Linked DNA regions of Homo sapiens. The protein of the gene in region 3 purifies or fractionates together with the protein of the main gene of each other region. This does not show direct contact. Each region holds a gene or a part of one and is shown on either strand. Other genes may lie near its edges.

Region 1 (4,700 bases), on a different chromosome or scaffold from region 3:
GCTGGTGGAGGCTGGAGGCAGGCAGAGGAGCAGCGGGGACAGTGCCCACCGTGGGGACAGTGGCCGTGGCGCTCCCGCCCAGAGCCTTCCCTGCAGCCCGAGGGCCTTCAGGCCTCCGCCATTCTGTCCCCCGCACCTGCCGCTCGCTCGGCACAGATGGGACCCCACCGCGTCACTCCTAGCCTGCGAGCCGCAGCCCAGAATGGCTCTCAGAACTGAGAATGGGCTGGGTGGCACTGAGGGTGGCGAGTGGGCGGGAGGGTGGTGAGCGGGGGCGGGAGGAGGGTGGTGAGCGGGTGGGAGGGCGAGTGGGCAGCGGGAGGGCGGGAGCACGAGGCGGGAGAAGGAGCTTTTTCGTCTGACAGCTGAGTCTGCCGTTGCTGGTGTTTTCTCTGGAGTTTCTTTGTTGAAGCTGAAGTGTTGGGGAAGACAAAGGCGAATGCTGACCCCACCCCAAACATTCCCAGACGAGCTCCTAGAACCCAGCAGACGGTTTCCAAATCTCATCTTCAAGTTCCCAGATTACCCTCCAGGCCCTAGATTTGAGTTTGCCAATTTGCCAGCCTGGCAAAGCTGTGCCTTCTCTAATGGGAACCAAATCCTGCCCCTTAGACAAGATGGCCCTTGGCTGGGCCTCACAGGGAACAAGGTTGGAGCATTCCAGGAGGTCTTTGTGCAGGGTTGTGGATGGCTGAGGGTGCTGGGGGGTCTGGGCTCAGACAGTGTTGGTCAGAGGGAGTGGCCTGAAGTATGGGTGAGAGGCCCTGGATGTGGCCTCTGATGGCTGCACCCCTGGTGCACACCCCTGCCAGCGTGTGTGACTCCCCCGGTCTTCCCCAGGGCGAGCCTGGAGCTGACGGGGAGGCGGGGAGACCAGGGAGCTCGGGACCATCTGGAGACGAGGTGAGGAGCTTCACAGCCCCCACACATGCCAGGTATGGGCCCAGGGAGGGTCAAGGAGATGGAGCGACCATTCAACCCTTGTTCCCCACAGGGCCAGCCGGGAGAGCCTGGGCCCCCCGGAGAGAAAGGAGAGGCGGGCGACGAGGTGAGTGAGGGCTCCTGACACCTTCCTGGGGAAGTGCATGGCCTCAGCTTCTGATCCTCTTTGCTCGGGGTCTACTCCACGTCCCTGAGACCAAATGCAGTGTGTCCACCAGACTAACGCCGGCGTCTGTTTCTCTTCATCCCAGGGGAACCCAGGACCTGACGGTGCCCCCGGGGAGCGGGTGAGTGGGGCAGGGGCAGCCTGCGCTGTTGGCCTCACCATGTAGCTGTGGACGTGGCCTCTGCGGCCCAGTCTGGCCCTCCCAGCACTGAGAGCCATGGCCTCCTGCCCAAGACAAATGGGTTTCTTCACCCACACGTCCAGGATGCCTCTTCCCACAGTCTCAGAGCGGGTGGGACCTGGGGAACCAGGAGATTCCGGCCTCTGCAACCGTGGGGCATGCGGTGGAGGGGTGGCCCCTCCCAGGGGTCCTGCTGGGGGAGTCAGTCCAGGCCAGGCCTCAAGCCCCACCCCAGCTGGGTGTGAGTTCCAGCAGCTGAGGCTTCTCCCCTCCATGTCTCTCCACTCAGGGTGGCCCTGGAGAGAGAGGACCACGGGGGACCCCAGGCACGCGGGGACCAAGAGGAGACCCTGTGAGTCACAGTTCCTGGAGCTGGGAACCACCCCAGGAAGGGGCAGGCGGAGGCTGGGGCTGGGTCAGGCCTCCAGAGCCACAGGACACATCATGAAGCCCCTGTGGCCCCTCAACGTGGCCAGCCCATCCCCACGCCGTCAGGGAGGGCAGCCCCTGAAGCCGGCGCCCAGCCATGTGCCTGATGCTGGGACCTGTTTCATGTGAAGGCGTTGCCCGTGGACCCGGTGCCCACTTTCCCACCAGGCGGCTTCCACGTTTCTGCATCCGAGCTTGGGTTCTTCTTTGGAATAATTTTCCTTAGTTAAAATTCCCAGCGTGAGGAAGTTGGGTCAGTACCCCAGACGGGAAGCTAGGCCTGCAGGGCGCCTGCCTGGGAAGGCTTGACATGGAAAACTCACCCCAGAGCCGAGATGCCGGCGGCCTCAGAGGCCACCCCCCACCTTCAGCTCCGTGGACCGTGGGCCTCGCTAGGCCACCCCACAGCCCAGCCTCAGGGTGCAGAAGCACAGGGCCCTTCTCTGTCCCTGTGACTTGCTGGGAAATCTGTGCTGGATGTGGGGCGGGGCAGCTGGCAGACTCCGGGCGTCTCAGTCCCATCCGGCTCAGGGAGAGCCAGGGCCTGGCGGGCAGAGTGAAGGGGAGAGAATGCCCTAGTGTGCCCAGCCGAGCTGCCAGGCCTCAGAGGCAGCGCCCCCGGGTGCCCCCTTGTCCGAGAATCAAGACATGCGACTGTCGTGTGCTGTGACAGACAGGCGGGGCTCCAGCAGGGCCAGAGAGCTGAGCCGGGGCCAGAGTCGCCGCCACCGAGGGATTTGGCTCCCCAGTGGGGGGTGGGGGATTTCTGACCTCCTCCCTGGGAGCTCCCCAGAAGCGCACAGCCCCCGTGGAGGGGTCGGGGGGACGTCAAAGCAGGGATCGTGTGACTTAGTGACTCAGACTGCCTTCTAGGCCCACTCCTCTGAGATCAGGATATGAGACTGACAGCCAGGCAGAGCCCAGAGGAAGGGCCAGCCACGCAGCTCCAGCTTCCCGGCGGGCCACAAGTCCATGGCTACAAACACTTGCCGGGTCCACGGAGCTTGCTGGAGAAGCAGGGATGCACGCAGGGACGCCTCTGGGGCCCCAGGAGGAGCTGCCGGCCTCCTGAATGAAGATAGCCATAGCCAGCCACGCCGATGGCCACGCACGTGGGCCGAGGAAACGCTTGGCGAGGCCAGGAAGGGGCTGTGCGGGGAGGGAAGGCCGGAACAGCCCAGTGACCACCTGGACAGCATGCTGTGGCTCCCAGCGTGCCCGGGCAGCCATCCTCCCCAAGGATGGCCCAGCTCCACACTCACGGCTCGTTTCTCTTCAGGGTGAAGCTGGCCCGCAGGGTGATCAGGGAAGAGAAGGCCCCGTTGGTGTCCCTGGAGACCCGGTAGGAAGCGCTGTGGGGTTGGGGGGCGTTGGCCAATTTGGGTTTTGGGGGTAGAAGTGCTCCAGCAGCTCACGCACTGGGGGTCTGTTCATTTCCGTTTGAGGGCCTCTGTGTTTCCGTAGATCTCGGGGGTGTCCCTGCGTGGGAGCCGGCTGCAGGGGGTGAGGCGCGGCCTGGGCCGGGCTGGTGTGGATTGTTGAGAGCAGGCCCAGCGCCCGGGGGCCTGACGCTGAGACGCTCAGCCCAGGTGGAGAAGCGCTGTCTGGGGGCCCATCCGGGGCAAGGGTGCCTCACAGTGAGGAAGAGGTGTTGGAGCCCCTGGGAGACACTGGGAGCTTGGTCAGCATCTGTTTTTCTGGGTCAGGAGCCAGGCATGACTGTGGCTGGAGGTCAACTGGGGAGTGTGAGGCTATGGAGGTTTCCAGAATCCCAGGGTGTCAGGATGAAAATGCACTTTCATCTCATTCTAAATTCCCTTCTCCGAGCCTCTGGAATCGCTGTGCACGCCGCACGGCTTTCTGTCTCTTCCCCCATTCTGATGACTGCCATGATGGTGGCTCCAGTGTGGTGTTGCCCGCAGGCTGGGCTGGGCCGTTGCATCCTCCCGGAGCTCACCTGCCCCACGGGGACAGGAAGGCCTCCACACGGTCACGCCCGGAGACAGCAAGTCTGTGCTCCCGAGCTTGTCTGCTTCTGTGGACAAATCGACCTTACGGCTCCATGTGCGCAGCTGCCCACACACCGAGCACAAGGCCAGACCCTGGGCACGGCAGCTGTCTCAGACGTCCAGCAAGATGGGGCCTCAGACCCAGGGAGATGGGAGAGGCCGTCCCAGTGCAAGTCACATTTGTATTTCTGTGCACGAGGTGAAATCGTGCTTTTGTGGTGCCAACGGGTGTTACACAGCTGTTAAAAATACCTGTGTCATAGATGAGGACCAGGGCAGGGCTTGGCAGGCGGGGTCTGGGCCGTTCGTCCACCTGGTCCTGCGTGCCGCTCACGGCAGGGGCAGAAAGGGCTCCCGACACCTTCCTGGGGAAGTGCACGGCCTCAGTCTCTGATCCTCTTTGCTCTTTGAGCTCCCGGGGCTCCAGCCCTGAGGATGATCTGACCTCCCATGTGGTCACCCAGGACAGGGCCAGGTGCAGGGCACAGTGCGTGGAAGAGGCCATGCAGCCAGTGGCAGATTGTGGGGAGGGGACGGCCCAGGGCCACGTTCCAGGCTTGGGAGGCTGCTCCAGACCTTGGTAGCTGAAAGTCTCAGTGGGAATGAGCGTTCAGAGGCCAGGACTTGCTCGGAGAATTCTAACCACACCCTGCCTGTTTTATATGTTCAGTTTTCAAAGTAATCAATAGCCACTATAAGAAAAAAACAAAGCCACTTTCAAAGGGTTGTGGTAAGAGGCAGTCCTGTGAGCAGGCCGGCTGCAGGGCCTCCAGGGCTGTGGGGCAGGCTGCACAGGGGCTGGTGGGTCCCATGCCTGGGGGTCTGGGAATAGTCTCTAGGCTGCTGTCCTGGAGGAGGTTTCCCCCAACGCCTGAGACCAGGGCACCATGTGACCCATGACTCACAGTTGCCTGGCTGAGGCAGGCACTTGTTCACCTGGAGCCTCCCTGGGGCCTTTCGGGGCCCGGGGGTG
Region 2 (4,700 bases), on a different chromosome or scaffold from region 3:
CCCGGCTAATTTATGTATTTCTAGTAGAGACAGGGTTTCACCATGTTGGCCAGGCTGTTCTCGAATTCCTGACCTCAGGTGATCTGCCTGCTCGGCCTCCCAAAGTGCTAGGATTATAGGCATGAGCCACCACACCTGGCCTGCTATGACATTTTAATCTTATTTTACAAAAGTAACAACTCTGCACTGAACTGAGTATTAAACAAACAAAAGACAATTGGAGAACTGTGAACATTAAGAGAAAATTTGATGATATTAAGGAATTATTCCTAATTATTGAGGAGTGGATTAGCACTGTGGTTATGTGAAAGAAAAAAAAAACACCCATCTTTTAAAGACACATGGTAAAATATTTACAAGAGATGATGAAGTCTGGTATTTACTTCAAAATAATCCAGAGTGTAAAAAAGGTAGTAAAACGTATGAGGTATACATTAAACAAAATTGGCCATGAAATGATAGTTGTTGAAGGCAGACAATAGGTACCTGGAGAGTCATTACACTATTCTCTCTACTTCAGTGTACGTTAGAAATATTTCATTAAAAAAATGTAAAAATTAAAGGCAACACCCACACTGGAAGCAAAATAGCAGCAGAAAAACAAAACCACGGAGACATGGTAAGGAACACAGATTTGAGGAACTCACACAACACTAAACAGAACAGAACATAGCAATATAAATAACCAGAAAGATAGCTAAGTTTCTAAAGAAAGGAACATATGGAACAGAAAAATAGTAAAACAATACATCAGCAAAAGCCAAAATATGGATACTGAGGTAGAAGAGCAATCTTTCAAGCAAAGAAGAAAGAAAAAAACCCAATGTGATCTCAGAGTTCTCAGCCATGCTCAATGCTACAATAGAAAAATGTCTACAGAATCGTGAGGGAAAGAAAGAAACTCAGCTAAGTTAAAAGGCAATGGATAGGGATTCTCGCATGGCAAGAATTCAAGCTACAATATCCATAAGGCGTTCTTTAAAAAAAACAAACAAAAAATGGCTGGATGACAAAACCTAGCCATACCAAGAATGAATCAAAATTTAAATTCAAGAATGGAGAAACGATGATAAAAGAACTAATGATAAATAAATAAAGAATAAATATAGACCAATAACTGTAGGAATGCAAATATTTTAAACCTTTGCAAAATAAAAATAAAAATGATGGGGTGGAGATAGATTGAAATACTTTATAAATCTTAAAATGTATAAATCTCATTAATCCTTAATGGAAATATCTATCTATAGCATTGTCTAGACTTATTTTTAAAAATGCTGTGATATTTACAAGCCCAAATCTATTCTTTAAAATGGTATAAGGAGTGTGTGTGTGATGAGGAGTAACTTACTATGGTGAACTTTAATAAGGGACCATCCCATCACCAGAGGTCTTTCAAAAATGATGAACTTGGCCAGGTGTGGTGGCTCACGCCTGAAATCCCATGCAAAGGCACACATCTTACATCTTGGCTCACTGCAACCTCCGTCTCCTGGGCTCAAGTGATCCTCCTGTCTCAGCCCCCAAGTAGCTGGGACTACAGGTGTGAGCCACCATGCCCAGCTAATTTTTGTATTTTTTGTAGAGACAGAGTTTCACCATGTTGTCCAGGCTGGTTTTGAACTCCTGAGCCCAAGCGATCCAACTGCCTTGGCCTCCCAAAGTGCTGGGATTACAGGTGTGAGCCACTGCACCCGGCCATGGTCTAGTTTAGTTTAAAAAAAGAGCTCTGCCTTGGCCAGGCGCAGTGGCTCATGCCTGTAATCCCAGGACTTTGGGAGGCCGAGGCAGGTGAATCACTTGAGGCCAGGAGTTCAAGCCCAGCCTGACCAACATGGTGAAACCCTGTTTCTACTAAAAATACAAAATTAGGCAGGCGTGGTGGTGCATGCCTGTAATCCCAGCTACTTGGAAGGCTGAGACATGAGAATCGCTTGAACCAGGAGGTGGAGGTTGCAGTGAGCCAAGATCACACCATTGCCATTGCACTCTAGCCTGGGCAACAAGGGTGAAACTCGGTCTCAAAAAGAAAAAAAAAAAAAAAAAAAAAGAAAAATGAAAATAAAAAAATTTCTTTGTATAGATGAATCCAACATTCCCAGGATTGCTTAATATTGTATAATAGGCAACAAAACCTCACCATAATCCTATTTGCTACAATGTGGTGACCCTCTCTCCCATCTTGGACTCCGCAACAAAAAATTTTACCAATGCTGTATTAGGACTTGAAAATTACCTCAAGGAAAATTTGACATTAAATGAAAAAAAATCTGAAAAGACATTCAAAACATTATTTTGAAATGGTGATCTCAGAGCTCAAAAAGTCATGTCTCTAGAAAATTATGTAAAACTATAAGGTAATACTTAAAACACAGTATATTCCATAAGGATGCCTAATATTAACTGCTGCATAATGGTTTTAAAATTGGTATTTTATCAATGTATCTCCTATTAAAGTTCTGCCAGTTTAAAATTTTCAAGAGGAATTAAATGAAAAGCAAAATAACAATGAAACCATTATTTCTCAAAGTATACTCTACAAACTGTGTTAGATTCACTTATGTTGTTTATTAAAAATACATATTCTAAGCCCCATCCTTGGAAATTTTGATTTATTAAACTGGAGGATACAGGAATTTTCTTTAAAACAGAAAGCTTTTGGGTGGCTTTTATGAACACACATTTGAGACTTAATTAACGAGTTATACCTTACTCCCCTCAAAGATCACATATATTGCCTAAGAACGCTATCACCTCTACATGGATATGTCTGATGCATAAATTTACAGAATAAATATTTCATATTAATTTTAAAAAATAATGCTGAAATTGCTTTTAAACCTATACTCTTCAATTCAGATAATTTGGTGATGAGAAAATAATGCTGAAACATACTTGGAATTTAACTGATACAGAAGTCCGTTTTTCTATTAAAAATAAGTGTTCTTACCATGCCATGATCAAATGTGAACACACCAACATCACGTCCATGATGAATATGATTCCGTCTAATAATTGGGTTTCCATGATTTTTAACCCAAATCCCAGCTAACGCATTATTGGAAATTTCATTATCCTCATATATTCCCTACAACAAGTTATCAGAAACAAACATCAGTAGAGCTTTTAAACATTTTCTAAAAAGAAAAAAACCACACAAAATTAAAAAATACCTGTGCATGATCTGTTATATATAGTCCAACATTTTCACAGTCACTGATGTTACAGTGCTTGATGGTGGGACATGCTCCTTGACCACTAACACATACTGCAGAACCAACTGTAGAAAAATTATTTATTTATGTAAAAACCTACTGGGCAACATACAGTGACTCAAAATTTTATTGTAAAATATAAAGAAAACACTAACCTGTACATGTACTTCGGATGATACAGTGATCAATAATAGGGCTACAATTTACTGTAATCTCTAAGCAGTGGTGTGCATTGTGGTGTTGTGCAGATTTGTCATCAGGGTTAAACTGAAAAGTAAAAATTTTGTTTGAAATAAACAATTACTGCCTTTATGATTTCAATGTGTATTTTAAATCTTAACATGTCTTACCCTTATTGTCATATATCCAACATAAGCATCTTCAGAGCCTTCCATAAAAACGAAGGTTGAATCTCTAGTGTTTTCAATTATAACTTTGTCTGCCACTTTCCCAGGTGCTGTGGAGAAGATATTTTAAAGAATATTACCTTTATTCGATTTCAACAGATGGGTATCTTTATGGAGGGGGAACTTACTAAAAACATTAGTACTGAGTAGTGGGACTAATATTCACTATCAGTTAACTATGTTTCATCATCAGCCTTTGCTATATTCAAATCCATGCACAGTATTACTTCTAATAACATTTAACTATAAATACTATGAATATAAAATGCAACGGCATATTAAAAAATGGTTTCTTGTGGAAACAAAAACAAAAAATGGTTTCTTGTGGAAACCATTCTGTTTCCAGCAGCAGCACTGGAAACAGAAGCTCAAGAAGAGAAGAGACCTCTATTTAAATTTATTTCCAACAGTGGCCTCGATTTAGAAAGTAATAAAATCACCAGACAAACATTTGCTCTAATCTATTCTCCCCATCTTCATGAGGAGATAGAGGAAGAAAGCAAAAGAGGCTGTAAATGCAAATTTCACTAGCAAATAATAATTACTAGCTATCTTAAAATGTTCTATGTACTGTATCCTCAAAATAAAAAAACCACAAATCTTCAAATGACTCAGTGTTTGACAGATATTACATTTATTCTTAGAAACCTGACCATAAATAGCTTTGAAATAGTACAAAAGTATTTAAAAATTCTATTTCAGTTCCTTTAAAAACATAGCAATAGAAATATTAGCATCTTTCTTTGCAATTCTCCTGCCTCAGCCTCCAGAGTCGCTGGGATTACAGGTGCACACCACCACACCTGGCTAATTTTTTTTGTATTTTTAGTAAAGATGGGGTTTCACCATGTTGGCCAGGCCAGTCTTTAACTCCTGACCTGAAGCGATCCACCCACCTCAGCCTCCCAAACTACTGGGTTTACAGGTGTGAGCCACCACACCTGGCTGCATCTTTATTTTCAAATAAAAGATGAAAAAGCTATTTTTCTTCGTTTAATGAATAACTCAAGGCAAATGGAGAAAGTACTAACATTAGGAAACATATACAGCCAGGCACAGTGGCTCATGTCTGTAATCC
Region 3 (4,700 bases):
AACAGGAATACCTGTTATGTGAATACCAGCTCAAAGCCCCTGGGTCAAACATGGAGTCTGCCTGTTGGTTCCATTCAACGTGATTTGCAAGCTTCCCTAAGGCAGCCAGGACAGACCACAGGGTCTCAAACTTGGGGGCCTCCAGGGGCTACAAAGTAAGATAAATTGGTAACAGGTAAATGGATATTGCACATCCTACTCAAACGTGAGATGCCCCCACTCAGTTCCAGCTGAGGGTGGCCAAAGAGAAGGGGGGCTCTGAGACCAGATGGTCCTACGTGCTGGGTTCCCCCCCCTCCCAATAAGCCTTTTGCACTCTTATCATGGGCTATTTTCGAGAAGGCTAAAAATACGCATTTGGCAGGGGTTAATTCTTCAATCTTTTAAGTGTTGGCAACTTATTCAGATTTTCACAAAGTGCTGTGCAGGCCAGAAAAACATATGTCTGGAAACCAGATGTAGCCACGGCCACTGTGAAGCTTCTGTTCCAAAAGGCAGCAAGGGGGTGGGGACGCTGCATCTCCTGCCCTCCTGATGCTGAGGACCTGGGTCTTTTCTGGGCTCAGCACCTCCTTTCTCTGGCCCACAGGACGACAGTAGGTCAGGATGTGACTGAACTATCCTACACCCTCCTTTGAGAAGCCCCTGGCCTGGCCTTGCCGAGGGTTGATGCATATCTGCAAATGAGTGAAACTGGAGGAGGTGTCATACCTGCTGACGTCCAGAGTTTGGGTGCAAAAGTGCAGGCAGGCCTTGTCATATCTCCCCACACAAGCGCAGCGCAAGTGTGGCCGATGTGAGAGCTGCAGATTCCCTGGAAGTGGCCCCGCAGACCTCTTGCCCCGGAAGCTTCCTCTGTAGTTGGACAGTCCATAGGGCACCGTCTGTCTGCAAAGCACAGGGTAATGTTAGGTGAGCACACCCAGGCCTCCCTGCTCAGGGGCCCCCAAGGGTGTGGAGCGAGAACCACCGCCTGGCTGAAAAGGTCTCAGAAACTGGTGTTCACAACCCTCCCCACTACAGCTCTGGGTCTTAGGAAGGTTCTGGAGTGAACTGTGCACCCCCTGCCCTCCACAACCCCCAGGAAGAGAGTTGGGGCTGAGGGCATGGAAGGACATGGAGGGTCTGGGTAGCTGGGCAGCAGCCAGCACTCTTGGAGCCCAGCAGGCGTCTGGGCATGTGTGCCTGCACTTGTGAGCCCCTTAGCCTCACCCAAGGCACCAGCTGCAGGTGTGGCCTGAACGCCCTGGGGCTCTGCGATCTGTGAACATGGGTGGGCTTTCATTCTCTTCAAGACCAAACCACGGCCGGCCTAGCTCCTCCGGGCCGGGTTCTGCTCCTCGGCTCTGGAAGTACCATCTGGGCCTCCTCCTCATTCCATGGAAAGCCGAGAAAGAATTAAAGACAACCATAGCACCTGTTCCAGAGGCTTTTCTTCCTGTGCCAAGGGCATGTGGGGCAACCTACGTGCTGGTCTGGGTCTTCGCCCTGATCAGATCACCTGCCTACCCCGCAGCCTGAGGCCAGACCTGAGGTTTCTGACTGAATTTCTTCCATGTGCACAGCAGTTTGTGCTAATGAGAAGATGGGAAATGCAATTACAGTCATTAGAGATGCATCCCGGCCTTTGAAAGTTGCTTCCTCAAAGAGACAAACATCAGAAGGAACACTCCGTGACCTCTGAGAGGCGGGTGAGGGCCTGGCCATGCAGCTGAAAGTGGAACCAGCCTCAGAAGAGCCGCGTGATGAAGAAGGCTTGAAACCATTGACCAATTTCGTTTATGGTTGGCGTTGGCAGGAGGAGTGTGATGGTGTGGTTCAGAGCAAAACCCGTGGAAGCTGGTTCTAGTGAGTGTGCACATCCAAATCATCACTTGCCAGAGAAAAAGGGGGTGCCTGCCAGGCAGTTCAGCGGGAAGAAGTTGAAAGCAGATCCTTAACTTACTAGCTTGATTTGAGGAACAAATTACTAATAGCTAGAAGAAACATGTGGCCAAAGCCACTTTTCCAATAAACATTGGTTTTCTTGCTAGTCCCCAGAGATGAACCACCTTGGTTTCCATGAACCCCACTGAGTAGTACCAATTATCCACTTCAAAGGGAGTCCTGACATCCCCTCTGCATTTTCTTTTTTCTTTTCTTTTCTTTTTTTCTTTTTTTTCTTTTTTTTTTTTTTTTGAGACAGAGTCTCGCTCTTGTCGCCCAGGCTGGAGTGCAATGGCACGATCTCGGCTCACTGCAACCTCTGCCTCCCCGATTCAAGCAATTCTCCTGCCTTAGCCTCCCAAGTAGCTGGGACTACAGGCATGTGCCACCACGCCCGGCTAATTATTATTATTGTTATTATTTGTATTTTTAGTAGAGACAGGGTTTCACTGTGTTAGCCAGGATGGTCTCCATCTCTTGACCTTGTGATCCGCCTGCCTCGGCCTCCCAAAGTGCTGGATTACAGGTGTGAGCCACCATGCCCAGCCCCTCGCTGCATTTTCAAAATAAAATCAAATTGAATTTCTTTTCATTTGAAACACACACCATAAAGCCTTTTTGCGACAGTGAGGGCAAATTGGGCCAGGAAGCCCCATAGTGACCTAAGGCTTGGAGGGAGTCCCCCGCCCCCGCCTCCCTGCTGGGTTGAACACAAGAGCCTAAAACTGACCCCACCCTGTTCGTTGACTCTTGTTCTCCCCACTAACTCCCTCCCACCCAAGTTCCTCAGAAACAGAGGTGGTGGGATCCCTCCAGGCAGAGACAGGCCCCGCTGATGAGCCATCTGTGCTCAGGAAACGGAGACAGAGGGCAGGATCCAGCCCTGTATTGAGCTGAACCCTCCTTCAAGCCCGTTTTTTCTCAGGAATGGGAAATGGGGGTAGGGAGTGCAGCAAGACAATGTAGACATTGTTTTGAGGCAGAGTTTGGCAAAGGTGTATTTTTCCAGTAACAGGGCCACATTAAATCTCTGAGTGTTGACATTAAATCAATCCCCCCATTTCTTGGAGAAAATTACACACAAGGAATAACAACGCTCCCATTTCTCCATCAATAGTGAGACCTGCAATTTTGAAACTGCTGTCAGCTGATTATGCATTTGCACATGTAGAGCCCCTCAACTTGAGCCAAAACACTCCAAAGTGTTTTAAGTAAGGAAACAAGGCAACATGGTATTTGTTAATGAAGACAGGCTTAGCACTTCCCCGGCCGCCAAGCGCGGTAAAGTGCTGGTGTGCAAACAGGCTCTGGCAGTTTAGAGAGGCACGGCCCCCTCCCCTGCCCTACAGCCTTGAGGCACAGAAACCCCTCCACCAAGGCCTGGGCCTTCCGGGTGTGCAGTCTGCTGACCGACCCGTGCGGAGGTGAGGGAAGCTGACGGCCCAGCAGAGCCTGCCGCTGACATTGTAGAGTCTGGAATGAGAGTTCGCGATGGAGGCCCACCTCCCACAGGGCTAATCATTTAAAGGTTTCAATCGATCTGATAAGCCCTGAAACGAAAAAGTGTTATCTCCTGTATCTGGACAAATGTGGCTTCCAAATGCTGCCTTGCAGGTCCAGCTTTTAATTTAGAATCCTGGGCTCCTGGCCACTCCGTATCGACATGTGGTGGAGGCCCAGTACCTTCTCTGCTATCCTGCGCCATCCCACACCAGCGCTGGCTTCAAGCACTCCCCGTGCATGCCCCAGGCTGCTTCCTCCAAGCTCCTTCCACCCTACATCCTGTAAGCAGCTGTCACCCTGCAGGCCTGGAGATATGTACCTGGAGCCCTGCTCATCCCCAAGTGTCAGGCCCTGGAAGTGGTCTTGGGGATGCGTGAGTAGGGAATTCCAGCCCCTGAATACCTGGAACATGGTCTTGAAGAGGGAGCATATGGCTTTGAGTCCCAGACTCTTACAGTGGGGTGGGAGGCATGGCCAGAGTGGCGTCAGAGGCAGTCCTCTAACCCACAGGGCCCAGAGTTGCAGTGTTTCTTACCCAAGTCTAAAGGCAGATTACTGGATCCTCAAAAGAGAGGGCAGGTCTTTTACTTCTTTTTTACCCACCATGGGCCTCACACAAGGCCAGGCGAACAGATTATTGATTGAGCAACTGGTAATTCATGGTGAGATCATTCTAGTCTGGCGAGACAGGATTCTTTTCACCCTAAAGAGTTCAATAACCACAAAAATCACTGAAAGAATCTCCAACATTCTTCAGCATCCACTATATACGTGGTATCAATGTAAGTGTCACAGGGACACAGAAAGGCACATCCCTATGTGTCCATGCCTTCAGGAGTTATATGCTGTTGGACTACGAAAACAGGTAAAGGAAAAAAGGCCAGTAGGTACAGGTATGTGCAAGGTACACACAGAGACACATGACCTGGTAATACTGCTCTTATGTTACATGATGATCACTTCACCCTCTCAACAACTTCCTGGTCGACAAAAGTGTGGCTGGACAAAGCAAAGGAGATACTGCATGGAAAATACTTAGCAAAGTGCCATAAGCAAACAGTAGCTACTATTGTTATTTATCTGGTCTGGGAGGTCAAGTGAGTTGTATCAGAAAAGTCCCACCTACTAAGCTTGGCATTTGAGATGTTTGACTTAGCAATAAAGAAGGGTAATAAGGAGCCCAAGGCCACAGGTCACCTCATTCGACACCACCTTCTCACCGAGCTCTGACGCCAGATTACCAGCTCATGAGCACTTCTATTTCAGTAGTG
Region 4 (4,700 bases), on a different chromosome or scaffold from region 3:
CAGACCTTTTTCTGGGGATCTTTAACAAGAGCTGGGCAAGCTACCCTCCAAAAAAGATGGTCATAAATTTGACAAAGGACAAGAAAGAAAAGGCTGGGTACGCCCATCTGTCCCTGGACTGGCACCGTCTGGACTGAAATGCCCAGGATGCCAAGCTTCTAAATAAGTCCCCTCACAAAATCACCGTGGAATAAAACAGGGACAGCTTACATTGTTAATACAAAAGTAAAGACCTAGAGTCAAAAATAATTTCCAATCATCTCCCCTTTCCAGCATTCTGTGAGGCTAAGACACTAAGCAAATACTCCACAAAAGTTTACTTTGGTTATTCAAGGTCAGAGGAGAGCACCTGGTGACTTCCATAAATTACACTCTCCAATTATTTAGGAAGCCTAAGGAACACAGGCTCCTGTCAGACATGCAGATAATAAATGAGATGAGTAGGGGAAGCAGGATGGCTGTGGGAAAGATGTCACTGTTCCCCTCTGGACAGATACCATACCCCATAGGTAGGGAGGGACACACTCTGCTCTTTTATTAATAACTGCCCAGGACTTCAAAAAAGTAGACAATGAACTACCTTTTCATAGAGATTACAAAGAATATCACTGCATTTAGAAGAATTTCTCTGTTGCTATGATTTTTTTCATTTGGTTTCCTTAATTAAAAAAAAGTCTCTTCTGATTTTACCCTCTTACTTCCTTCTCTTGTCCACAATAATAATGTAAAATAGAAAAATTACATCATACTAAAACCTGGCTTCCGCTGTATCAGCTAAGCAGTTCTCCTGAACCTTGCACACCCAGCTGGTTTGGGGCTGAAGAGAAATCAACACACATTGAAAACACAGCTCCTGGTCCCCACTCCTCAACTCCTTCTCAGGCAGTGAAGGAGAGGAAGGCTGTAGCTTGGTAAAACAAGCTCGTGGGTGTTCTGACACTACCTGCTTAAGGTTCTTCCAGAACTCGTTATACAACAGGGGAGGCAGTCAGCGCATGTCTCTTCTCCCAGCAAGCTTTAAAGGCCAGCCCATGAGCTCTTGGGAGGTCAGGCATGCAGCATGCATGACTCACATAGAAGAATGACATGTGCTAGACAAACAGGTAAAAAGATAGTGTGATTTGTGGGGTGTTTTCAGAGCAGAATGGCAGAAACACTTCTGTGGAATCATAAATGGTGGGTCTTTACTGGCCAGGTGACAGGGTGCAGACCTCCAGTGATGTGTGATCAAACAAGAGAGGCTGTCCCACAAGGAAGAGGAGCTTGGCGACCCGGGAGGCCGACAGGTAGCCTCCTGTGCACAAGAGGAGCATGGGCAGGCTGGGCCTCCTCAGAAAAGAACACTGGACTCTTCTGAGACAGGATGAAAACAGTCCAAGGGCTGGAGTGAACATCTCCTGAGAGAGCCTCCTACTCACCTCCATACACCTCCGATGTGGAGGCCAGGAGCAGACGGGCACCGACTCGTTTTGCCAGCCCTACAGAAAGCAATGACATGATAAAAGAGACTGAATTTACATGTGCAGGCACATTTTTTGCTGGCCAATTTAAGCAATGTTTTAGTATTAAAGACATTTAATTATCTATCCAATTATCTACCCTTACTGCGTCTGCTTTGGCACCAAAATAAACAAAACAAATACAGTAAGAAAAACATAAATGGATTCTCAGAAGGCCAGTATTTTGTTGAATACTTGTCATAAGCAGGGCCAAACGCAGAATCTGTTAGTTTGATAAAGTGTGATTTGAGGAGTTTCGTGAAGACTCCTCTGCCCCCAAATATTACCCCATATTTTACTGGGTAACTTTCCCTTGGTTGGCAGAAGGCAAGGCCCTTTTCTCCTTAACTTCCACAATGGTCAGCTTGCCACTTCCTGAACATCTCCTGGGCTCTTCTAACTGCCCATGCCACCCTGTCTGGGTAACTCTCCACTCATTCTTCTTCCTCCTATGCGGTTCAGCTTACACAGCACCTTTTCCAAAGCAACTGTCACATTCCTCAATTCTGCTCTGAACCCCTTTCCTGGACTGACCACTCACATGTAACTGACCAGAACATCATTATCTATGGTGGTCAAGTAAGTATGGAAAGTCTTCCAAACTCATTCACAGAGTCCCAGTGTACAGTGGTTCACTACAGGATCCAAGAACCCCCCTGACCGTCACTAACCCTGTACTTAAGACAGGCGACATACCCCACCCCCAATCGCCACTACACTAGAGGGGGGCTGTGCTGGACACCCCTCAGCTCTGCCCCCCCACCAACAGCAGGGGCCAACACATGCCCACGAAGCACTGCTAGGAGGGTGAGACGAGCCAGGCACATGCAACCTATGTGCGCTTCTGGGTGAGGCTGGGTGGGGTGGTAGGATTCTAGCGTGCAGCAGCCAGGGGTATCAGTGTGTCAGACAATGTAGTAGCTTCAAAATGAAGGACTCTGAGATCTTTTTCTTCCTGATTAAATTTTTTGAGATATTTGTACATTCAAATTCAATTGTACAAAGTAGTATAGGGACCTTATGTATCTTTTACCCAGATTCCCCCAATGCTAAAATTTGCAAAACTAGATTGTGCCACAATCAGGACATTGACATTGATATGATCAGTGACTATTTCCACTGAAACGGACATTCCATTGATAAAAGTGATAGAGCATTTCCATCTCCACCAGGATCCCTCACAGGGCCCTTCTACAGCCTCTCCTCGCTCCCTCCCACCTGCTGACCCCTGGCAACCACTAACCAATTCTCCATGTCTATAATTGTGTCATTTCAAGGATGATACACAAATGGAACACGGCCTCTTAGGACTGAATTTTTTCATGGAGCATATTTCCCTCAAAATCTATCCAAGCTGCAGTGTGTATCAAAGTTCCTTCCTAATCTATTGCTGTGTAGAATTCCCGGGGATATATGTATGCACTGCCGTTAATCATTCACCTATGATAGGACATTCTGGTTGCTTCTCATTTTTGACCTCTACAAGTAAAGCTGCTATGAACATTCACACAGGTTTTCATGTGAACATAAATTTTCATTTCTCTGGGAGAAATGCCCAAGAATACAATTACTGAGTCTTACAGTAGATGCATACTTAGTTTTTTAAGAAAGCGTCAAACTGTTTTCCAGAGTAACTATACATTTTATATTCCCCCCTACCTGAGTTCTTTCTAGTTTATAGTTTTCTCTGAACTTTGGTCACAAACACACATCACAAATGCAATGTGTTATATTTCAAAAACAACTGAGTTTAAAGATTTTGAAACTAAGACTATTTCTGTAGCACTTTCATGGAATGACTCACGCAGGATCTACAGAGACAACTGTCAGGGAGTGAAGCCAAGGGAGCTATCCTGCTGCTGTAGTGTCTGGGGGTTACGAAAAACTTTCATCAGAGAAAGAACTCTAGCACAGGGTCTGGGAGGTGGGCAAGTTACATAGAGGAAAGGGCCTCACCAGGAAAAAGCCAGGCAAAGTTCATGGCATCTTGTCTCAAGTGCAAGATGGCTAATGACAGCGCCTCTCGGTTCAGAATACAAAGTCCAATTTGGGTTTCTTTCCAGCCTACCAATGGTCTCCCTTTGCCTTTTGTATCTCTCCTGGAAGACTCTTTACCATTCCTGCAAGGCCTCCACATTCAATCTCAGTCATAGCTCAAGCCCTAGCTCGAGTCATTTTTGCCTTTAACTCTAACAGCACTTTGCTGAGGCCTCTCTTTGGGAGACTTTCCTTTCCTACTAGGTATCATCGACGCTTGTGCCCGTTCAGCAGCCCCCAACCCCCATAGGGCACCAAGTGCAGAAGAGCCTGAGGGTAACCCCATCTGAATCTGCCCCAGTGACAGGACCCACGGGCACAGTGACTGCATCCCCCGAGTAGGAAGAATAAACGGAATCTCCCTAAACACCAAGTGCATGATCTTTTCCTCTATGGTCTAGTTCTGGTATGATGGAGGGGGGCGGGACAGAGAGAGTGTAGGAGGGGTAGGCGCTTGTGATGGCAAGAAGAGGGCATCACGCACACCTCTAAGCAGAAGCAGCAGCACCCTGTTCTGTCTGGTGACCAGAGCAGGAGACGGTAACAAAGAAGATAAAGCTCTTTCCAGATAGGAAGAATGAATCATCTTACTCCAAACAACCTGTCCCCTGTGATGGTTCATTTTATGTGTCAACTTAGGCCACAGGATGCCCAGGTATCTGGTTGAACATTATGTCCGGGGGTATCTGTGAAGGTGTTTCCGGAAGAGAGGATAATTTGAATGTGTAGACTGCGTAGAACACATGGCCCTCCCCAACGTGGATGTATCATCCAGTCCCTTACAGGCTTGACTAGAACACAAAGATGGAGGAAGGTCAACTGCTTACACAGAACATCGATCTGCCCTCGGCTCTCTGGTTCTCAGGCCTTGGAACTACACCCCTGGCTTTCTTGGTTCTCTTTCTTGCTTGCAGAAGGCAGACGGTGGGACTTCTTGACCTCCATAATCATGTGAGCCAATCTCTCGTAACAAATCTCTTTCTCTAAATCTCTACACATCCTATTGGTTCTGTTCTTCTGTAGAACCTTGACTAGTACCACCCCCTAAAATATTGCATCTAAGAGATAAACCAATCTCTGGCTGTCCTTTCATTCTCGACTCCACGCTTTGTTCAAATTAAAATTTAGTGCTGTATGTCCCAAGTCTATTTGCAGAACCTGTAT

Evidence for each region. The genes of interacting proteins can lie anywhere in the genome.
Region 1: the proteins of EDN3 (region 3) and COL6A1 purify together in Homo sapiens (affinity purification with mass spectrometry; one large-scale study listed by BioGRID and IntAct). This does not show direct contact.
Region 2: the proteins of EDN3 (region 3) and FBXO11 purify together in Homo sapiens (co-immunoprecipitation; 2 studies listed by BioGRID and IntAct, with this or other methods). This does not show direct contact.
Region 4: the proteins of EDN3 (region 3) and UXS1 purify together in Homo sapiens (affinity purification with mass spectrometry; one large-scale study listed by BioGRID and IntAct). This does not show direct contact.

The regions. Positions count from the first base shown.
Region 1 is NC_000021.9:45,991,170-45,995,869, forward strand, and holds part of COL6A1 (collagen alpha-1(VI) chain precursor), read left to right. Parts: intron 1-840; coding exon 841-903; intron 904-994; coding exon 995-1,048; intron 1,049-1,193; coding exon 1,194-1,229; intron 1,230-1,578; coding exon 1,579-1,641; intron 1,642-2,997; coding exon 2,998-3,060; intron 3,061-4,700. UniProt on the Homo sapiens protein: Collagen VI acts as a cell-binding protein.
Region 2 is NC_000002.12:47,829,399-47,834,098, forward strand, and holds part of FBXO11 (F-box only protein 11), read right to left. Parts: intron 3,673-4,700; coding exon 3,566-3,672; intron 3,483-3,565; coding exon 3,371-3,482; intron 3,281-3,370; coding exon 3,174-3,280; intron 3,089-3,173; coding exon 2,951-3,088; intron 1-2,950. UniProt on the Homo sapiens protein: Substrate recognition component of a SCF (SKP1-CUL1-F-box protein) E3 ubiquitin-protein ligase complex which mediates the ubiquitination and subsequent proteasomal degradation of target proteins, such as DTL/CDT2, BCL6, SNAI1 and PRDM1/BLIMP1.
Region 3 is NC_000020.11:59,317,205-59,321,904, reverse strand, and holds part of EDN3 (endothelin-3 isoform 1 preproprotein), read right to left. Parts: intron 889-4,700; coding exon 712-888; intron 1-711. UniProt on the Homo sapiens protein: Endothelins are endothelium-derived vasoconstrictor peptides.
Region 4 is NC_000002.12:106,124,202-106,128,901, forward strand, and holds part of UXS1 (UDP-glucuronic acid decarboxylase 1), read right to left. Parts: intron 1,479-4,700; coding exon 1,419-1,478; intron 1-1,418. UniProt on the Homo sapiens protein: Catalyzes the NAD-dependent decarboxylation of UDP-glucuronic acid to UDP-xylose. Necessary for the biosynthesis of the core tetrasaccharide in glycosaminoglycan biosynthesis.